Linked DNA regions of Homo sapiens: region 2 is reported to be linked to region 1. Evidence: microRNA targets listed by miRTarBase, many of them from high-throughput screens and not tested one by one. Region 1 holds a microRNA gene; the other region holds the end of a gene's coding sequence.
What was found. Region 1 holds the annotated microRNA hsa-miR-6806-3p (UGAAGCUCUGACAUUCCUGCAG, at 2,915-2,936, shown strand). A microRNA usually pairs through its seed, bases 2 to 8, with sites in the 3' UTR of a target mRNA and lowers its output. Matches are read on the target gene's strand: a 7mer-m8 pairs with bases 2 to 8, a 7mer-A1 pairs with bases 2 to 7 and ends in A, and an 8mer does both.

Region 2: the mRNA of DNAJC3 is a reported target of hsa-miR-6806-3p. Seed matches in the 3' UTR shown: 8mer at 1,452-1,459.

What each region holds. Positions count from the first base shown.
Region 1 is chr19:58,331,816-58,337,195 of GRCh38, forward strand. It overlaps MIR6806 (microRNA 6806), which reads left to right and starts at 2,873; the gene lies at 2,873-2,936. It overlaps ZSCAN22 (zinc finger and SCAN domain containing 22), which reads left to right. Exons shown (of 3, transcript NM_181846.3): 2 at 2,937-3,390. The coding sequence starts at 2,988.
Region 2 is chr13:95,789,936-95,795,315 of GRCh38, reverse strand. DNAJC3 (DnaJ heat shock protein family (Hsp40) member C3) reads right to left here. Exons shown (of 12, transcript NM_006260.5): 12 at 328-4,443. The coding sequence ends at 4,286. Among named protein-coding and RNA genes, the nearest start is that of DNAJC3, 120 kb to the right of the region's middle.

The DNA of each region.
Region 1 (5,380 bases):
ATTACAGGCATGAGCCACCGTGCCTGGCCAACATTATTTTTTTAAAAGCTGTATTTTTATTTTATTTTATTTTTTGAGATGGAGTTTCACTCTTGTTGCCCAGGCTGGAGTGCAATGGCAGAATCTCGGCTTACTGCAGCCTCCACCTTCCAGGTTAAAGGGTTTCTTCTGCCTCAGCCTCCCAAGTAGCTGGGATTACAGGCATGCACCACCACGCCCGGCTGATTTTGTATTTTTAGTATAGATGGGGTTTCTCCATATTGGTCAGGCTGGTCTTGAACTCCTGACCTCGTGATCTACTCGCCTCGGTCTCCCAGAGTGCTGGGATTACAGGCGTGAGCCACCGCGCCTGGCCTCCAGAACATTTTTATCATCCCCAAAAGAAATTCCCAAACCTATTAGCAACCACTCTCATTTTTGTCTCTCTTCAGCCTCTGACAAACACTAATATGCTTTTTTTTTTTTTTTTTTTTTTTGAGATGGAGTCTACCTCTGTCGCCAAGGCTGTAGTGCAGTGGTGTACTCTCGGCTCACTGCAACCTCTGCCTCCCAAGTTCAAGAGATTCTCCTGCCTCAGCCTCCTGAGTAGTTGGGATTACAGGTGCCTGCCACCACACCCAGCTAATTTTTGTATTTTTTAGTAGAGACGGGGTTTCACTGTGTTGGCCAGGCTGGTCTTGAACTCCTGACCTCAGGTGATCTACCCACCTCGGCCTCCCAAAGTGCTGGGATCACAGGTGTGAGCCACCGTGCCCTGCCGTGTCTTTCTTCTTTTACTTAGCATCATGTTTTCAAGGTTCATCCATGTTGTAGCATTAATCAGTACTTCATTTCTGTTTATGGTGAATAGTGTTCCATTATAGGTATATACAGCATTTTATCCATTCATCAGGTGGACATTTGGATTGTTTCTCCTTTTTTGCTGTTATGAGTAATGCTGTTATGCACATTTATGTATAAAGTTTTGTGAGGACATATACTCATTTCTCTTGGGTCTATACGTAGGAGTAGAATTGCTAGGTCATGGGGTAACTCTGTTTAAGCTTTTGAGGAACTCCCAGACTGTACTTCCCACAGTGGCTATCCCATCTTACATTCCCAGCAGCAGCATATGAGGATTACAGTTTCTCCATATCCTTGCCTACACATGTTATCTGATTATAGGCATCCCAGCAGGTGTGAAGTGCTATCTCATTGTGGTTTTCATTTGCAGTTCCCTGGTAGCTAGTGATGTTAAGCATCTTTTCATGTATTTATTGCCCATTTGTGTATCTTCCTTGGAGAAATGTCTAGTCACATTCTTTGCTCATTTTAAAATTGTATTATTCATCTTTTTACTATGGAGTTGTTCTAGATACAGGTCCCTTATCAAATATATGATTTGCAAATATTTTCTCCCACTCTGTGGGCTGCTTTTTTACTTTCTTGATGTGGTCCTTCAAATCACAAAAGCTTTTAATTTTGATAAAGTCCAGTTTATTTATTTTTTCTTTTGTTACTTATGCTTTTGGTGTCATAGCTAAGACAGCTTTGCATTATTTTCAAGTATTCATGGAACATTAACCAAAATTAACCATACACTGGGTCACAAACCAAGTTTCAGCAAATTTTAAATGATCGAAATCCATTGTAGCATGTTTTCTGACCACAACAGACTTAATCTAGACATCAGTAATAAAAAGACAACTAGAAAACCCCCAGTTGTTTGGCAATGAAGCAGGAGAGTTTTAAATAAATAACCAATGGGACTGGGCATGGTGACTCATGCTTGTAATCCCAGCACTCTGTGGGGCCGAGGCAGGCAGATCGCTTGAGGTCAGGAGTTCGAGACCAGCCCCGCCAACATGGCAAAACCCCGTCTCCACTAAAAATACAAAAATTAGCCTCACATGGTGGTGCACACCTGTAGTTCCAGCTACTTGGGAGGCTGAGGCAGGAGGATTGCTTGAACCCGGGAGGCGGAGTTGCAGTGAGCCGAGATAGCGTCACTGCCCTCCAGCCTGGGCGACAGAGGGAGACTCCGTCTCAAAAAAATAAAATAAATTTTAAAAAATAATTAATGAGTAAGGTAGAAATTGTAACAGAAATTAGAAAATATTTTTAACTAAATGATAATGAAGATACAACATATCAAACTTGTGATGTATAGCTAAAGCTGTGTTTAGAGAGAAATTTATAGCCTTAAATATGTGCATTAGAAAAGAGGAAAGGCGAAAGTCAATTATGTATCAATCTCAAACACTACAAAATAATTAGCAAGTAAAGTGAGAGAATGACCATGTGGCTACCTGGGGAACAGAGGGAGAAAGACTTGGCTCTGTTGGGGAGGAGCACGCCTTAAACAGGCTGGCTGTAGGTTTGCGTGGGTTTGTAGCTTAGCTCTCTGTTAACCCTTCACTAGCTGAGGGACTTTGGGCAAATATTTTCCTCCTGAGTGTCTGTTTTTCCATCCATAAAATAGGTAGAAAGTCCCACCTCCTGAGTTTGTTGTAAGTTTTTTGTTTGTTTGTTTTTGTTTTGAGACAGAGTCTTGTTCTGTTGCGCAGGCTGGAGTGCAGTGGCGTAGTCTCGGCTCACTGCAAGCTCCGCCTCCCGGGTTCACGCCATTCTCCTGCCTCAGCCTCCTGAGTAGCTGGGACCACAGGTGCCCGCCACCACGTCTGGCTAATTTGTTTTGTATTTTTAGTAGAGACGGGGTTTCACCATGTTAGCCAGGATGGTGTTTGTTGTAAGTTTTAAATGAGTCTACATGCAAGCAGTAGTAGCTTAGAACAGTGCTCAGCACCAAGTGGGTGCTGTCCTAATTATGAGGATTGTCTATGTCTTTGTGAGAGTCTTTCACATCTCACGGGCCACAAGCCTGTGTTTTCCCTGCTCTGTAGGCATGAGGCAGGGCCCAGGTTCCATGTGATGCTGAAGCTCTGACATTCCTGCAGGCCCAGTTCCAAGGCTCCGGCATCCTGTGTCTCACTGAGCACTGCTGCCCGATGGCCATCCCCAAGCACTCCCTGAGCCCAGTGCCGTGGGAAGAGGACAGCTTCCTTCAAGTGAAGGTGGAGGAGGAAGAGGAAGCCAGCCTCTCCCAGGGCGGAGAATCCAGCCATGACCACATTGCTCACTCTGAGGCTGCACGCCTGCGCTTCCGGCACTTCCGCTATGAGGAGGCATCTGGTCCACACGAGGCCCTGGCCCACCTCCGAGCGCTGTGCTGTCAGTGGCTGCAGCCCGAGGCGCACTCCAAGGAGCAGATACTGGAGCTGCTGGTGCTGGAGCAGTTCCTGGGTGCGCTGCCCCCAGAGATCCAAGCCTGGGTGGGAGCCCAGAGTCCCAAGAGCGGAGAGGAAGCCGCTGTGCTGGTGGAGGATCTGACTCAGGTGCTGGACAAGAGAGGTAAAGGGGCGCCGTGGGCAGCTTCACGGCACACCAGAGATACACCCTGGACAGGAACATGGGAGCACAGGGCTCTGGTTTGGGGTTGCTCATGCACCCATTCTCACATTTGTACTTTACCGTAACTCTCACACACTGTTGTAGACAGGTGTGTTTTGGTTGCAGGTGACCAAAAGCGAGCTGAAATGGGCTGAAGCAAAGAAGGGTAAGGAGGCAGCAGATACGGCTATATCCAGAAGATCTGTTGACAGCATCAGAACTCTCTTCTTCCTCTCTTGTTCTGTTTCTCAGTTGGTTTTTTCTGTGTTAGCTTCATTCTTATTTTAGGTTCTCTTTCCAAAGGGGTTAAAGATAGCCAGGAACCCCAGGCTTATGTCTTACCAATGTAGAAACCCCGGGGTAATAACAATAAGAGGTCCCTGGTCTGAGCCCCCACTGGCCTGGTTGGGATCTTATGTTTGTGTTTGGCCAACCAAATCCCAGGGACTAACAGTGAGCAACTGGCTGTTTCTCAGAGGAAACCAGACGAGGGCCTGGGTGCCTGGGGTGGCTGTTGGGGGTGACGGAAATACCAGATGTCCCTGTGTACCTTCTCTATGCCCACCCTGGGCTGGCCTCCAGGATTTGGGTGGGTCAGACCTGCCCCAGGCTCAGCTGGGCACTGTTACTCACAGAGACCCACACAAACATCCCAACCCAGGGAGGTCCAGTGGGATGCAGGGAAGACCCAGCCTTGGGACAATCCAGAGCAGGGAGTGGTGGCTCGTCTCAGATGGGCTTGGCCTGGCCTATTGGCAACAGATAGGAGGTGGGCATACCACACACTGGGAGGAAACGTGCAGTGTGCAGGAGGAATGTGGAGTCTGGATACAGCTGCATCATCAAGGCTCAGTAGATCCAACCGCTGCTGCTCTTCCTGGCCATGTGACTCCCTTGTGCCTCAGTTTACTCATGGGTAAAATGGGGATTGTAATAAAAACGCCCACCTTAGTGGTGTTGCGAGATACAAGGCAATACCCGTGCAGCACCTGAAATGGTGCCTGGCACAGATTAAATAAATGGTAACTGCAACTGTTAGGATAATTTGTTCAGCTCTGGGAGAAACAGGCCTCTCTGGAACAGAGGTTGGTCTATGCCCAAGCAGATGTCACAGAGACAGGGAGAGGAAGGAGGGAGTGGCCCCATCCTCCCACAGGGTTGGCCAAAGCTCAGAGAAAGGGTAAAATGCAGAGGGAATGGTGGGGTCAAAGGCCTGGCAGTGTGATTTGCACTGGTGTATTCTGGTAAAAGCAGGTGGTGTGATGTTTCTGGATAGAGGAAGGAAGGGGGAGACAGGGCCAAGCAGATGGCTGGGGGAGCAGGGGAGACTGCCTGTGGACCTGGAGGAGAACATTCTGGAGCTGAAATCCCAACTGGGCCACTAGCTAACTGTGATCCTGTACCAGTTACTCAACACCTTCCCTCAGCTGGATTTCAGTTTCCCCATCTGCAACAGAATCACAGCAGTACCTCCTTCTGAGAGCAGGTCGAAGCTGAAATGAGGCGATGGAAGTCACCCACTGTGCTTGGGGCCCAGCACGACAAGAGCCTGATAGTGGTTAGTGGCCCTGGAAGGCCAGCGGCACAGCATCCATGGCTTACAGATGGGGAGACTGAGTCCCAGATGAGGGCAGGACTGATTAAGGTGGTAGACCTGGGGTTTGAGTCCAGTTTCTGCACTGCTGAGCCCCACTGTGGACTTGAGCAGTGGGTATTCCACCTGTCTCTGCCTCCTCCCTGGAATCCATCCAGTAGATGTGCCAGATTATGTGTCCTTTGCACCCATGCAGGGCAGGTCAGTGCGAGCATTCCTCTACCTCATGCACACTCTGATCTCCAAGAGCACCTCCGCCACACTCTGCCTTCATAGTACTTTACAATGTAGGGGCTTGAGAGGCCAGATGGGTACCTCATGTACTCACCCCCAGCAGCCATATTCTACCTGGGGTTC
Region 2 (5,380 bases), not on the chromosome of region 1:
ATGTACAAATGGGGTATAAAAGAGAAGAGAAAATCTTCAGACAAAGCCAATTTAAGTGTTACATTTTAATAGCACTGAAATGGAAGACTTGTCCACTTTTTAAGTCCTTAGTTGTCCTAGGACTTTTGAGGGTTAAGAGATTTTATTTTAGCCCTTTCTGCTTTGTGTGTTCTGACCTTCCCTGTCAACTTGTGTAAAGGAAGAGCCCTTTTGTCACCTCAGTCACTGGTTTTGCGTGAAGCAAAGCTGGAAATAATAGACTTTTCCTAAGACGGACTTTCTTAGAATTTTATACTCAAGGACAAAAATGAATCAAAAGCAAGGAAATACTGATATGACCATAAATATTTTTATTAAATGTGAAAATACACGGGCATAAAAATAGTACCCATATTTGTAGACATGTCTGAGACCCATTTCAAATATTAGGTTCCTTTTTTATTAAAACACTACATTGAGATGGATTAAGTTACTTAGTCTTTTCTCATTCAAAACAAACTAAAACCTCACAGCAAGAGTAATATTTTCACAAACATCTCCAATGTTTACCTCCTCCTTGCTCGGCTTTCCACTGCAGGTAAGTGTTTCAGCCACAGACAAGTGCAACAAAACCGGTTACTATACACAAAGCCACGCAGTGGCTAATTTTACTCTTAAATCAATCATTCAGCAAATGAGATCATCTGTAAACAAACAAAAAAAACCCCCAAATAATCCCACCTCTTAACGTCATTTGAAATTACAGGATAAACTGCCACTAACAAAAAAGGAATGATCTGATTTAGAAAAAGGATATTCGTTGTTGGCAAATTAACATTTGCCTTCTTCCTTCCTTTATAAATTTGGAAAAGTCAACTACATTCAACAAAGTTGCGTGAACTTCTCTAGGTGATACCATTGCTGTGTGCTCAGTGAAAACTTTGCAACGCCCATCACCAGGGCCGTGTCTGTAACCTCACCAGGGAGCCATTTTATGTAGTTTTTTCATGGTAAATGTCAAAGACAACTTCTGACCCATTTAAAGGTGAAATTTTTCATCATCCATTGTGAGTAGAAAATGGTATCAATTTCAAATTGTGGTTTTATTGGCTACCTTTTTTACCAAGTTATGTTTTCTCTTAAACTGTGGGTAGTTTTAAAATTCCATTATCAGGGCAACAAAAATTTGTTTTCATACCAATACTTTAAAAAAGATTTTTAATACTGACTAAAGAGAAAGGCATTGTAGAATTAGTAGTACGTTACATCTGATTCACATTAGTAAACTGTCAAGATTTTTTTCAAGTTTTCATCTATTCATGGTAAGAAAGCACAAACTTTCAGAACTGAGGAATGAATTAAATTTTGTCTCCCGTTTTGGAACCTTTTCACAATGCTTCTAGACTGATGTGTCTAATACTTCCTGCTGGGCAAAATATCCACAAAGTACAGACCACTGATAACTCCACCCATGAAGCTCACCAAAAAGGAAAGAAGAGCAGAATACAACAGCTGTGGCTAGGGTACGCCTCTCTGATTTCACTTTTCCTGAAAGAGCCATAAAGGTTACCTGATGGCCAGGCGCAGTGGCTCACGCCTGTAATCCCAACACTTTGGAAGGCCAAGGCGGGCAGATCACAAGGTCAGGAGATCAAGACCATCCTGGCTAACACAGTGAAACCCCATTTCTACTAAAAATACAAAAATTAGCCAGGCATGGTGGTGCGTGCCTATAGTCCCAGCTACTTGGAGGCTGAGGCAGGAGAACTGCTTGAACCCGGGAGGTGTCCCTGCACTCCAGCCTGGGCAACAGAGCAAGATTCTGTCTCAAAAAAAAAAAAAAAAAAAAAAAAAGGTTACCTGGCACCTGTAGTCCCCAAGGGAAAATGAAAGTAGTATGGTTTTACAGTGGATAATGCTACCCTACAGTGAGACAGGCAGGGGGAATGACTATCTCTTTACACACCCAGGCTGCTTCTCAGTCACACATTAGGGTAAGCAGGAGTGACTGTCTCTCCGTTTGGGTGGACACCAGAAAACTGCCGACAGCCATCAAGGCTGAAACTCAACAGTTGTTACTTTCTTCATGAATCAGCGAAACAACAGATTGCAGAGAATTCATTTCCCTCCATGGCACTGGCATGTGGCACCAGAGCTGCTTCTCTCTCTTCACTGAAAACAGGCAAGTAACTGCAGGTCAGTTAAGATGACTAAGTAAATCCATGATAAGAATTTAGGAGCTGAAACTATGGTTGTTACAAGTGGAGAAAAAATGAAAATGCAAACAAGCCTCTGGGCAGCAGGTGGGAGGTGGCCAGGCCCCCACACATCTCCTGTGCGGCCCTTGACCCCTTGTTGTTGGCAACTGTCGTGCTCTCCAAGTGGAAAGGCAAGTGATTTGATATTTCCTTTTTTTTCTGACTCTATGTGAAAATTCTTTTCAAAGTAGGTAAAAGCCATCACTATATTTCAAAGAGGTCACAGTGACATCATATACAAAAGGAACCAGATTGAAAAAGATATTGCTGACATAGCCAGTAGTGAGATTACTAAAGAATAAACAGAAATGCCTTGGAAATTATTTTTACACCGGCTTGAATTGAAACATTAAAGCAAAATGAAAGCTGTAAGGTGTTCACTAGTTTTCCAAATGCGTTGTCAAGTTTATTGGTAAGAAATAGACTCCTAAATAGATGCAGAAAGCACTTAAGTGTTCTGCTCAATTCAACTATGTGATTTTTGTCTCTCAGTTAAAAATTTGTCCACCTATGTTTCAGGATATGACTACAGACGAAAACGATTTGTGCTTTGCTGTTATGGATGTCCGTGGTCAGGATGCCTCCCACAGTGAATTAAAATGCTTGATTTCATTAAGAAAAAAAAATTAGACCCTTTAATGGTTAAAACACTTCAAAATGCTTTGAGGCAGAAACAAAACCTTTCCAGAATAAAGGTAGCAATTCCTATCTATCTAAAGTAATTCCTTCAGCTTTCAAATGCAGCATCAAGAGTGCCATAAATATTCAATATTCTTGATTAACATTTTTTAGGGAAAAAGCATTCAGTATACAAAGACTGAATAGTTCACTTCTTAAATAGTATCTTCTTAAAAGGTAAGAAGAACATATCTCAAGAGGAGATGCCATCTTATTAAATGAAACAACAGTGGAAATATAGCCAGACCTGACTAACCTTGCCTGTATTTTCTTGTAGGCAGGAGAAAATCAGAGGCATCAAGATCTGGTAGAAGGGCCGGTCTGCTGTTTAACACATACCAGCAGACAGGTCCCACGTGGGAGGCACCACAGACCTTTAAGATAGGGTGAAGCCTTGATAGAAGGAGAAACAGAAGCTGCCCACTGTCTTTACTTAGAAGTGGAGAACATGGCATTCTGTATTTATTTATGTTGACTGCGCAACTTTACGTTTCTAAACCAGTCTTGTTACATGAAATTCCCTATAAAAACTCAGAACTTCAGTTGTTTAAAAAGTATTTCAATCTGCACTTCAGCAATATTATTTTAAATACCACCACTATTTTATCTGAACTTATTTTACCTATAACAACTTTTAATTTGTTGTGTTTAATATTAAAAGGGTCCATAGGAATTTATAGATTCAAGTTTCAGTATTCTTCTTCAGGTACTGAACCAAAAAAATGTACATTTAACATTAATCCAAAGTCTAAGCCTGGATATATTATTATTTGGTGGCAGGGTTCCTAAAAGATGGTCTCTTGCTCCTTCAGTGACAGCCACGTTGACAGACCACAGAGGTGCAAACACATGCACACTAAAGATTTCACAGCTACTCACAAGTGACGAGACTGACCACATCGAAGCACAGTTGTCCCTAAGAACATACAGCTCAAAAATGTTCATGTTCTCTTTAAGAATACTGAAGTATAACCATCCTCATGAAGATTACAGCTCCTTCTTACACTTGTAGGCACTGACTTACTCTGCAAGGCTGTGAAGAGAAGAATCTCAGCTCCAGTGTAGAAAAATAATACAGAATACGTGAGCACTTCCACGGGTGAGCCTGCCTCAGACCACTTCCCTCCAGACAGCATAAAGCAGATGCAGGCTGCTCTGTCAGAAATAGAACCATTCCTTGCCTCCTTGCCGTTGCAAACCCATTAACCATAAATCTGACAGGGATAAGAACAGATTTTTTCCTATTAAAGCAACTCTTTGGTCATGGACAAACTGAAAAGATTTGAAATTTTTTTTCATTAGGGTCCCGGAACAAGATTTCTTTGTTTTTAATCTTTAAAAAAATTAAGAAGAGCAGAAAAACAGTTGGTTTAATTGAAGTGGAATTTAAATCTAAATGGTCCGCCTGAGCTGAAGGGATTGAACCCTTGCCATGAGTTCCAGCTTCTGTGGAAAGGGTTGCCGCCGCCTCCTTGCTGGCTCTCTGCATCCAAAGGATCTTCTCCGTCGTCAAACTTCTTTCTCATTTCTAGAAAGAAATCAGAAAATTAAGAACCAGATAATATCTAAGGTATAGGGGCAGGGGGAATGTTTTCTTTGGGCAGAGGAGGGTGGGTGGGCTTGAGGAGCTACTTACTTTTCGGTTATCAAGAGTTGTGCCTGACATTCAAATCCAGGCTCTCCCATTCCCACCCTGAAGAAACAGACTAGAGAAATTTGCCACAAGGAGGGTGAGGTTCAGGGTTGATAATAGGTATTTATTGAGATTCAGGCCCCTAAATCTCACTCCAGAAGAAGCCACCCAAGCTTGATAACTACCCAATGAAATTATTTGGAAAAAAATAATTCAAGAGAAACTTCCAAGAGTCTACAATTCTAATGAAACAGCCAGCTCACCACCCTAATCCCCAAAATAAAGTCTGTAAGGCAATGACCTCATCAAGCATCTAATGAGCATTCTAGCACTAAGGCTCCTCAGACATGAGGGGAGCGGGGCCTCCATAACATACAACTCCAGGAGGTTCACCTTTCCCTCCCATGCAATTGGTGCCCCCACAGCGGGGCCTCTGAGCCCCGAACAGAGAGAGATCAATGCAGAGACATGGGAGAAGGCAATAAAGAGGAATATTGCAGGGATAGGAAGAAAGAGCTCATGTCCTCAGAGTCATTAGAAAAACCCTGGAAGACAACCTAGGCAAATACTATTCAGGACATAGGTATGAGCAAAGATTGCTTTTGGTGTTTCCATCATGAAATTGCAACAAAAGCAAAAATTGACAAATGAGATCTAATTAAACTAAAGAGCTTCTACACAGCAAAAGAAACTATCAACAGAGTAAACAGACAACCTACAGAATGGGAGAAAATTTTTGCAAACTATGCAACTGACAAAGGTCTACAAAGAACTTAAATGTACAAGAAAACAACCCCATTAAAAAGTGGGCAAAGGACATGAACAGACACTT